Linked DNA regions of Homo sapiens. The protein of the gene in region 1 interacts with the protein of each later gene in a pairwise test. Each region holds a gene or a part of one and is shown in the gene's direction. Other genes may lie near its edges. The genes, in order: LAMP2, CASP6 and FLT3LG.

What was found.
Region 2: the proteins of LAMP2 (region 1) and CASP6 interact in binary tests that used the Homo sapiens proteins (3 or more experiments, as listed by UniProt).
Region 3: the proteins of LAMP2 (region 1) and FLT3LG interact in binary tests that used the Homo sapiens proteins (3 or more experiments, as listed by UniProt).

What each region holds. Positions count from the first base shown.
Region 1 is NC_000023.11:120,462,752-120,466,403, reverse strand, and holds part of LAMP2 (lysosome-associated membrane glycoprotein 2 isoform A precursor), read left to right. Parts: intron 1-3,652. UniProt on the Homo sapiens protein: Lysosomal membrane glycoprotein which plays an important role in lysosome biogenesis, lysosomal pH regulation and autophagy.
Region 2 is NC_000004.12:109,693,337-109,696,988, reverse strand, and holds part of CASP6 (caspase-6 isoform alpha precursor), read left to right. Parts: intron 1-502; coding exon 503-579; intron 580-2,288; coding exon 2,289-2,464; intron 2,465-3,652.
Region 3 is NC_000019.10:49,477,080-49,480,731, forward strand, and holds part of FLT3LG (fms-related tyrosine kinase 3 ligand isoform 1 precursor), read left to right. Parts: intron 1-1,829; coding exon 1,830-1,968; intron 1,969-3,218; coding exon 3,219-3,397; intron 3,398-3,472; coding exon 3,473-3,520; coding exon of another isoform or gene 3,521-3,541; intron 3,542-3,652. UniProt on the Homo sapiens protein: Stimulates the proliferation of early hematopoietic cells by activating FLT3. Synergizes well with a number of other colony stimulating factors and interleukins. Required for the development of B cells, and dendritic cells (DCs).

The sequences.
Region 1 (3,652 bases):
CAAGGCATCTGTTAATCAGTAGTTCCCTGCCAATTGAATCTGTGCACAAATACAACACTGTTATTGTTTTGGGAAAGTGAAAAAAATAATAGTTGTCCTACTTGTTGGCTTTCATGTCATTAAATTTTTTTTTGTTTTTTAATGAAAGCTTTTTTGTTTTGTTTTTACAAAAGCAATGCTTACTCACTGCAGAAAATAAACATGCAAAAAGAAGCACATAAAAGAACCCATCAGCTCATCTGCTAGTTTGCCATTTATTGATCAGGACTAACTAGATTCTTCCTCTTGGAAAATTTCCAAGATTGATTCCCTCCGCCTCCAAGTTCAGAGCAGGATTTGGAAAAGTAAATATTAATAATGTACCTAGATCTGATTTTTAAGAGGTTCCAGGATGAAATAGAAACCATTTTTCTATACAGCTGCATTTTCTGATGGCTCTTGGTTCAGTGTGGAGCCCAAAGTCCTCCCATATAGCTTTTTCTGTCAAGAATTTAGCAGTTGCTTGGTGGGTTTTGCACAAGTTACTTTTCTATATCAAAATGGATACCAATAATAGGTTTTTGAAAACTTAATAAATATTTGTAAAGTACCTAATATGTAGCTAAATCAATAAATATTTGTAAAGTACCTACTATGTAGCTAGAACTGTGCCTGGGTACTGTACGGAGTGCCAATGAAGGAGGACCTGTCCTAAATTTATAGTCTTATTAGCATTAGTGCTCTAGCTGTGCCAGTTTGACTTTGTAACTTTATAACTCTATCCCAGCTTCACCCATAACCTTTTAAAAACAGCAGCTTTAGAATAAGTACAGAAAAGGATTCTTAGAGGCTATATATTGGTCTTTTTCATAGAGATTAAATTATGCTGGTGTTTATTTGGATGAATTGTAACTGACCAGACAACTTTCCGAAGAGAAGCTATATGATTTAGAGGTGTTATAAAGTGGATAGTGGGTGAAAATCCTTTCTTTATATAATTGCCTAATTATGGTCCTTTTGTGATATCATAGATTTCAGGATTCTTCTGTGGTTATTGATTCTTATAACTAGCTTGACTTCTGTTTTTTGGTTTGTTTGTTTGTTTTTTTAGGGTTCAGAATTTTTTTTTTTTAGGTTTGAGGCTTTTCTGGGTGGGAAAAACCTCACAGAAATATTCTTAGTGTATGTTACTGGTAGGAGCCTCTCCCTTCCACACGTTTACTGAATGCCTATTGTGTCCCAGCCACTATATTAGGTGAAAGGGACAGAGGAATGGATAAGACAGATGAGGTTCCTGCTCTCATGGAGCTTACATTTTAATGGGAGAAGAAAGCTCAACAGATAAATAATATAATGTCAGATAGTGATAAACACTATGAAGAGGCCGGGCATGGTGGCTCACGCCTGTAATCCCAGCACTTTGGGAGGTCAAGGTGGGCAAATCACCTGAGGTCAGGAGTTCGAGACCAGCCTAGCCAACATGGTGAAACCCCATCTCTACTAAAAATACAAGGGCATGGTGGCCAGCACCTGTAGTCCCAGCTACTCGGGAGGCTGAGGCAGGAGAATTGCTTGAATCCAGGAGGTGGAAGTTGCAGTGAGCCGAGATCATGCCACTGTCCTCCAGCCTGGGGGACAAGAGCAAAACTCTGTCTCAAAACAAAACAAAACAAAAACACTATGAAGAAAATTACACAGGTAATGAGAAAGGAGAATGAGTAGATGATAGGAATGGGTGATGGTGGATGATCCTTCTTTATATTATGTGGTCAGAGGGCCTTCCGTTATCGGGTGACATTTGGGCAGAGACCTGGGTGTTGGCAGGAGGCCAGCCATGTGACCATCTGGGGAAATAGGAATAAATCTTATCATTTGCAAAATCTTAGGTTACTAGCCTATTTTCCACGCTTTTTTGTTTCCCCCTAGTTTTAGTCAAGTCTCTCCTATGGTAGCAGTCTCTAAGAGCAGAGACGATCTTATGTACTGTTACTTCCCATTGCCTACCTAGCATAGGGTCTGGTACATGGTTAACCCGTAGTGAATTTTTGTTGAAGATATTCATTGGTGGGCACTAGGGATATGGTGGTAAACTAGACTCATTTAGTCTCCTTTTTCTTCCATGAATTTTAAATGATGTTTTGCAAGAAGTTCTTTTGGATTGAAAACTTCAAGATCAGTGCTAAGCAGTACGGATAATTATACAGTAATTTACTAATGTATAATCCCATATAATAATGCTAGTTTCTTACCTGTACTCCTTCAGATATACCTCCGTAGTCTCGAAGGGGGTAATATGGAGAATTAGGAGTTCCTTGGTGAGGAGAGTTAGGTTTTCACAAAGTTAGGTTTTCTCTGAGAGAAAACAAGCACTAAGATTTTTCTATAGGCTTAACACATTTCATTTAACTGATAACTTTGATTTCGAGGTTCTGCCAAATTATTCTAGTTATAATAGAGATACTGTAAAGGACTGAAAAATTCTGAACCCTAAAAAAAAACAAAAAAAAAACGAAAAACAGAAGTCAAGCTAGAAGATAAGAAAGGACAGGCTTGTTAGTTTGTTAGTCATTGATTATCACATCTGATAGGGTTATAGATATTCAAATATGTCCCAAATACCAGATTAGTTTGTTAGTCATTGATTATCATATCTGATAGGGTTATAGATATTCAAATATGTCCCAAATATCAGATTGTCACATCTGATAGGGTTATAGATACTCAAATATGTCCCAAAAGAACAGCTTTCTTCCCCTATATCTTTGGGTAGATTTTGTCTATAACCAAGCATTATTTCGTAGCACTGGAGCTGATTTAAATGACCCTTGATGCAGGAAGGCTGCTCTTCTTTCTGTAGTGCAAAAGTATTCTGATCATAATTTCTTATTAAAGTGATCAGAGATCCCCTCAGACCCAAAAGTATACTTTATAAGTACTTGTTGGTATCCTGCTGTGCATTGTGAAAGAATTCTGGAGGTGTGCCAAACACTGCTCAACAATAAGCACTTTCCATTAGTTGAGTAGTGTTGAATCTTGTTTCCTTACCCACTCTTTGGCCTTAACAAATTAAGTCATTTTATAGCTTAAAAACATATTTTTATTAACTTTTAATACTCTTTTTCATGTGTTCAACATTCTTACTTTAAAATCATATTGCTTTTCTCCTTTAAGAAACTTACCAAAAGCAAGGGTATAAAGTAACTGAATGCAATGAGTGTACCTATTATTAGGAATTATAAAGGAGAAACAGTTAATCTGACTTAAACTTGTAGGAAAACCATCACTCTGAATAGAAAACAAAGATAAATAGGTACCGTATGCCTCTGTGTCCTGTATTTTAAAAAGACCTTTTGCTCAACATCATTCTAAATTCATGAGTTTGAGGACAAGAGTCCAGAATTTAATATGATGAAAGTAAACATAAAGCTAAAACTTGGGAAGGTTCCCTTTAGGTGCTGTGTTTACTAAAAAGGAGACTTGTAAATTGGTATCTAACTTGTTTGGCAAATTTCTTTTAGCTCTGAAGGGTTTATATGCTTTCAAAGAACCTATTGGAGAAATATGCACTATAATTCTAAACAAGGGTAACTTGCCCAAAGTCTCACAGCTAGGAAGTTGGACTGCCAGATTTGAGTTCTAGCTCTTCCACTCCAGGAATGGGGACTCTTAATCA
Region 2 (3,652 bases), on another chromosome or scaffold:
TGGTGAAACCCTGTCTCTCCTAAAAAATACAAAAAATTAGCCGGGCGTGGTGGTGGGAGCCTGTAGTCCCAGCTACTCGGGAGGCTGAGGCAGGAGAATGGCATGAAGCCAGGAGGCGGAGCTTGCAGTGAGCCAAGATCAAGCCACTGCACTCCAGCCTGGGCGACAGAGTGAGCCTCTGTCTCAAAAAAAAAAAAAAAAAAAAAACTTGCCTGAGTTATTTTCCTTACTCTGTTCTATTAAATGTTGACAGGCTTTTGCATTTGTACTAACATTTGCATAGTAGACAACAACACTCTAAATTGAATCGGCTGTCATTATGATTAAATCCTTTCCGACCATGGTGAATGAAGGGAAAACCACCATTGTTATATTTCATTTCTTTTCTCCTAAAGAAAGCAAATTTATGTGTCGTTAAAATGTGTATAGATTCTTCCAAAGTAAGGGTATTTGACAACTTTGAAAAGTTTATAGGCTAACATTTCATTTAATATACCACTAGGTTTTCAGATCTAGGATTTGAAGTGAAATGCTTTAATGATCTTAAAGCAGAAGAACTACTGCTCAAAATTCATGAGGGTAGGTAGTTTTGCTATCATATAGTTCATCTTCCTCTAATGAAACCGAGTCCTTTATCCTATCTGTAAAGACAGGTACAAGTAATTACTTGTGTGACAAAAAAAGTATTAATTTAGCACAGGTTACAGGTTTTGGGTATGCTGCTGTGTTTCCGTTACCCAGCACATTTAGAGACCCTTGCAAATAATTATGCCTCTAAAGTTTATATTTAGCATACCACTAGTTACAGTCTCTTGTAGAAATGAATGAAATGACCCCTTCAATTGGCAGTAAAAGCCTAAAATGCAAGTACTACAGGTGCTGGGCAGTCAACAGGCTCATTTTCTCATTGACTCCTTTCATGCCTCATTTTCTCACTGGTTTCCAAATAGTGTTGGTTTACATACATTACCTCCTTTAATTCTCACAGCGTCAATAGGGGGTAGGTATTCTAATTATAACAACCTATATTATAATCATCGCTGCATGCCAACCATTATATTTGCATAATTACTTTAAACTTTCTTCAGAGCTCTTCTTTAAACTGCACATCATTCTAACTTTGGCTGCTTTTACCAGCTTTTCTACTTTGCTCAGAAGCTTTGGAGGACATCAGTCTCATGGCACCGCACCTGGCTTTGAGTACTCTTTTGGAAGCTCTAAGTGCTATAATCTTTTTTTTTTTTTTTTGAGATGGAGTCTCGCTGTCCGCCCCAGGCTGGAGTGCAGTGGTGTGATCTCAGCTCACTGCAGCCTCCACCTCCTGGGTTCAAGCAATTCTCCTGCCTCAGCTTCCCAGGTAGCTCGCCCCCATGCCCAGCTAATTTTTGTATTTTTAGTAGAGATGGGGTTTCACCGTGTTGGCCAGGCTGGTCTTGAACACTGGCCTCAAGTGATCCACCTGCCTCGGCCTCCCAAAATGCTGGGATTCCAGGCGTGAGCCACTGCGCCTGGCCCTAAGTGCTGTATTCCTATAGTGAAAGTGCAGCAATGCGTGGGGAGCTGTTGAGCAGCAGTTTCTGGGTCTTTCCACTCTGCTCTAAGGTCTCTGCTGATTCAAGGAAATTTTTAGTTTATTGCCAAAATAACTTGGATCTTAAGTGAGATTCCCTATCGTAATCCCTTTATGTTTTCCACATCATTCTGTGTTTTAGAAAGGCTAATGAAATTTGGTCAAACTCTATTACTCTGAACTTTAATAAATTTGGATTTTTTTAAAAAAATAAGATACAGTACGGTATATTGTTTGATTAAAGACTAAGTTGTTTCATCACAGATATTTTACACTTATTAAAGAGTAGGCCGGGCATGGTGGCTCATGCCTGTAATCCCAGCACTTTGGGAGGCTGAGGCGAGGTGGATCACCTGAGGTCAGGAGTTCGAGACTAGCCTGGCTACATGGCAAAACCCCGTCTCTACTAAAAATACAAAAATTAGCTGGATATGGTTTCAAATCTGTAATCCCAGCTACTTGGGAGGCTGAGGCAGGAGAATCGCTTGAACCCGGGAGGTGGAGGTTGCAGTGAGCCAAGATCGCGCCACTGCACTCCAGCCCTGGGCACCAAGAGTGAAACTCTGTCTCAAAAAAACAAAAAAGACAAAACCACAAATTTTCCTCCTCCCCAATCATGTGGATGTAACTTTATTCTTGTGTTAATAAACTGAATTTTTATGTGTAGATAACAAGCATCATATTTTCATTTCTATATTCTCTTTTGGGTCCTTTATAGTGTCAACTGTTAGCCACGCAGATGCCGATTGCTTTGTGTGTGTCTTCCTGAGCCATGGCGAAGGCAATCACATTTATGCATATGATGCTAAAATCGAAATTCAGACATTAACTGGCTTGTTCAAAGGAGACAAGTGTCACAGCCTGGTTGGAAAACCCAAGATATTTATCATTCAGGTAAGACTGAGTACATTATCATCTTAATTATAAAGTCTGTCATTCTGAACATGTGATAAAGGTCTAAAAGCCAGTTTTGAAAGTAACTTTCTCCAGTAATTGGACAGGCCGTTTTTGAATTCTGGCCAATCATAGTTGCACTTTGAGCTGTTAGTAATAATTCTTTGACACTCTCATTGTCTATATTACAAAATAACAGCATTTGGATTGAGATTTGAAGTGACTCACAAAGTAACCAATGTGCTACTCCCTGTCCGAGCCTGATACCAAGGAGAGCCATTGGAAAGCGTACCTGCTGATTGAAGAGTGCCGCACAAGGCAACCTCATCAGACTAGGTTTGCTTCTTTGGGAGGTGGAGAGCATATAAACCAGTGGAAAGAATGGAAAAATAAAGCCTTCTAGTCTTATCCTGTCTCATCCCTTTCACATTGCCCCTTAAACCAAGATTGTTTCCCCGCTGCCAAATTGGTTTTAGGGATAAAAGTATTTTTTACAGGCGTGATGGCTCACACCTGTAATCCCAGCACTTTGGGAGGCCGAGGCAGGCAGATCACCTGAGGAGTTCAAGACCAGCCTGGCAAACATGGTGAAACCCTGTCTCTACTAAAAATACAAAAATTAGCTGGGCATGGTGGCAGGTGCCTGTAATCCCAGCCATTCGGGAAGCTGAGGCATGAGAATTGCTTGAACCTGGGAGGCAGAGGCTGTAGTTAGCCGAGAGCATACCACTGCACTCCAGCCTGGGCGTCAGAGCGAGACTCTGTCTAAAAAAAAAAAAAAATTTTTTTTTTTGCATGAATATTACTTGGCACATCATTAACGATTTTTTTTTTTTTTTTGAGATGGAGTCTCGCTCTGTCCCCCAGGCTGGAGTGCAATGGTGCAATCTCGGCTCACTGCAACCTCCGCCCCCAGGTTCAATTATTCTCCCACTTCAGCCTCCCGAGTAGCTGGGATTACAGGCACCTGCCATCATGGCTGGCTAATTTTTGTATTTTCATAGAGATGGGGTTTCACCATGTTGGCTAGTGTGGTCTTGAACTCCTGACCTCAGGTGATCTGCCCGCCTTGGCCTCCCAGAGTGTTGGGATTACAGGCGTGAGCCACTGTGCCCGGCCAAAGATTTTGAACTACAAAAGAGAAACCTGACATGCCAGTGTCACAATTCTGTATTTCCATGAATAGCA
Region 3 (3,652 bases), on another chromosome or scaffold:
ATGCCACTGCACTCCAGCCTGGGAGACAGAGTGAAACTGTCTCAAAAACAAAACAAACAAACAAAAACCTCTCTCTGAGGGCTGGGTGCAGTGGCTCACACCTGTAATCCCAGCACTTTCGGAGGCCAAGGTGGGAGGATTATTTGAGCCCAGGAGTTCAAGACCAGCCCGGGTAACACAGTGAAACCTCATCTCTGCACAAAAATAAAAATAAATTAGCCAGGCATGGTGGTGCCCACCTGTGGTCCCAGCTACTCAGAAGGCTGAGGTGGGAGGATCACTTGAGCCCTGGAGGTCGAGGCTGCGATGAGCTATGATTGGGCCACTGCACTCCAGCTTGAGCGACAGAGCAAGACCCTGTCTCAAAACATAGAATAGGCCGTGTATGGTGGCTCACGACTGTAATCCCAGCACTTTGGGAGGCTGAGGCGGGTGGATTGCCTGAGCTCAGGAGTTCGAGACCAGCCTCGGCAACGTGATGAAAACCATCTCTACTAAAATACAAAAACAAAATTAGCCAGGCATGGTGGTGGGCACCTGTAGTCCCAGCTACTTGGGAGACTGAGGCAGGAGAATTGCTTGAACCCAGGAGGCAGAGGTTGCAGTGAGCCGAGATCACACCACTGCCCTCCAGCCTGGGCGACAGAGCAAGACTCCATCTCCAAAAAAATAAAAATAAAATAAAAGCCTGGGTACAGTGGCTCACGCCTGTAATCCCAGCACTTTGGGAGCCCGAGGCGGGCAGATCACGAGGTCAGGAGTTTGAGACCACCCTGGCCAATGTGGTGAAACCCCGTCTCTACTAAAAATACAAAAATTAGCTGGGCATGGTGGCGCGCGCCTGTAGTCCCAGCTACTCAGGAGGCTGAGGCAGAATTCCTTGAACCCGGGAGGTAGAAGTTGCAGTAAGCCGAGATCGTGCCACTGTACTCCAGCCAGGGTGACAGAGCAAGACTCTGTCCCCAAAAAATAAATAAATAATAAAGTAACTTTGGGAGGCCGAGGCGGGCGAGTCACCTGAGGTCAGGAGTTCGAGACCAGCCTGGCCAACATAGAGAAACCCCGTTTCTACTAAAAAATATAAATAAATAAATAAATAAATAAATAGGCTGGGCACGGTGGCTCACGCCTGTAATCCCACACTTTGGGAGGCCGAGGCGGGCGGATCACAAGGTCAGGAGATCAAGACCATCCTGGCTAACACAATGAAACCCCATCTCTACTAAAAATACAAACAATTAGCCGGGCGTGGTGGCAGGCGCCTGTAGTCCCAACTACCTGGGAGGCTGAGGCAGGTGAATGGCGTGAAACCAGGAGGCGGAGCTTGCAGTGAGCCGAGATTGCGCCACTGTACTCCAGCCTGGGCAACAGAGCGAGACTCTGTCTTAAAAATAAATAAATAAATAAATATGGCCAAGCACGGTGGCTCATGCCTACAATCCCAGCACTTTGGGAGGCCAAGGTGGGCAGATCACCTGAGGTCAGGAGTTCGAGACCAGCCTGGCCAACATGGAGAAACCCCGTCTCTACTACAAATACAAAAAATAGCTGGGCATGGTGGTGGGCACCTATAGTCCCAACCACTGAGGAGGCTGAGGCAGGAGAATCACTTGAACCTGGGAGGCAGAGGTTGCATTTCACCACTCCAGCCTGGGCAACAGAGTGAGACTCTATCTCAAAAAAAAATTAATTAATTAAATAAATAAACTCTGAGAGCCAGAGCTCACTGGGCCCTGTTGCTGGGCATCGCCAGCAGGGAAGGGCCTTTGGCCTGCGGAGGGGCGGTGGGGGGATGACGTGGTGGTGACGTCTCCCTCCCCTGCTCCCAGCCCCCCCCCAGCTGTCTTCGCTTCGTCCAGACCAACATCTCCCGCCTCCTGCAGGAGACCTCCGAGCAGCTGGTGGCGCTGAAGCCCTGGATCACTCGCCAGAACTTCTCCCGGTGCCTGGAGCTGCAGTGTCAGCCCGGTAAAGGCTTCCAGGCACCCCCACTCCTTCCCCTCCTGTCCTCACGGCCGCTCCTCCTCTCTGCACAGTGCATCCCAGACCCCATCTTTCTCATATTGGTTGTGACAAGGGCAAGCTTATTCCTCTTTCTGGAGCTCAGTTTACCAATTTTTTTTTTTTTTTTTTGAGACGGAGTCTCGCACTGTCGCCCAGGCTGGAGTGCAGTGGCGTGATCTTGGCTCACTGCAAGCTCCGCCTCTCGGGTTCATGCCATTCTCCTGCCTCAGCCTCCCAAGTAGCTGGGACCACAGGCGCCCGCCACCACACCCGGCTAATTTTTTGTATTTTTAGTAGAGACGGGGTTTTACCGAGTTAAACCAGGATGGTCTCGATCTCCTGACCTTGTGATCCACCTGCCTTGGCCTCCCAAAGTGCTGGGATTACAGGCGTGAGCCACAGTGCCCAGCCTACCTTTTTTTTTTTTTTTTTTTTTGAGATGGAGTCTTGCTCTGTCCCCCAGGCTGGAGTGCAGGGGTGCTATCTCGGCTCACTGCAAGCTCTGCCTCCTGGGTTCACGCCATTCTCTTGCCTCAGCCTCCCCAGCAGCTGGGACTACAGGCGCCTGCCACCTCACGCGGCTAATTTTTTTTTTTGTATTTTTAGTAGAGACGGTGTTTCACCGTGTCAGCCAGGATGGTCTCGATCTCCTGACCTCGTGATCTGCCCGCCTCGGCCTCCCAAAGTGCTAGGATTACAGATGTGAGCCACCGCGCCCAGCCTATTGTTTTTTTTTTCTAAGTCGGAGTCTTGCTCTGTCGCCCAGGCTGGAGTGCAGTGGCGCAATCTTGGCTCACTGCAACCTCCATCTCCAGGGTTCAAGCGAATCTTCTGCCTCAGCCTTCCGAGTACCTGGGATTACAGATGCGCATACCATGCCTGGCTAGTTTTTGTGTTTTTAGTAGAGATGGGTTTTCACCATGTTGGCCAGGCTGGTCTTGAACTCCTGACCTCAAGTGATCCACCCACCTTGGCCTCCCAAAGTGCTGGGATTATAGGCGTGAGCCACCGCGCTCAGCCTATTCACTCATTTAATTTGTGACAGTCTGATGAGGTAGGTACAATGATTATCCTAGTTTTACAGATGAGCAAACTGAGGCACAGAGAGGCCAAGCAGCCCATCCAAGGTCACACAGCCAGTGGCAGCCAGGCCTCTCTTTCCTTCCTTACCCCAGCCCTTCTCCTTGGTCACCCAGCCTCCTCTTTCTCCCCAGACTCCTCAACCCTGCCACCCCCATGGAGTCCCCGGCCCCTGGAGGCCACAGCCCCGACAGCCCCGCAGCCCCCTCTGCTCCTCCTACTGCTGCTGCCCGTGGGCCTCCTGCTGCTGGCCGCTGCCTGGTGCCTGCACTGGCAGAGGACGCGGCGGAGGACACCCCGCCCTGGGGAGCAGGTGAGCAGGCTGGGAAGAGGGGGTGAGGGGGCCGAGAGGGTGGCCCACTTGTGGCTGACACTTTGGGGCCCACAGGTGCCCCCCGTCCCCAGTCCCCAGGACCTGCTGCTTGTGGAGCACTGACCTGGCCAAGGCCTCATCCTGGTGAGTCCTTCCTGGGCTATGGGGCCTGGACTTTGTGTCTGCAGGTTGGGAGGGTCACTAGGAGGCCATGGAAGGGTGGTGAGCAGTGGAGGGGCAGGGGCAGCTCTAGGT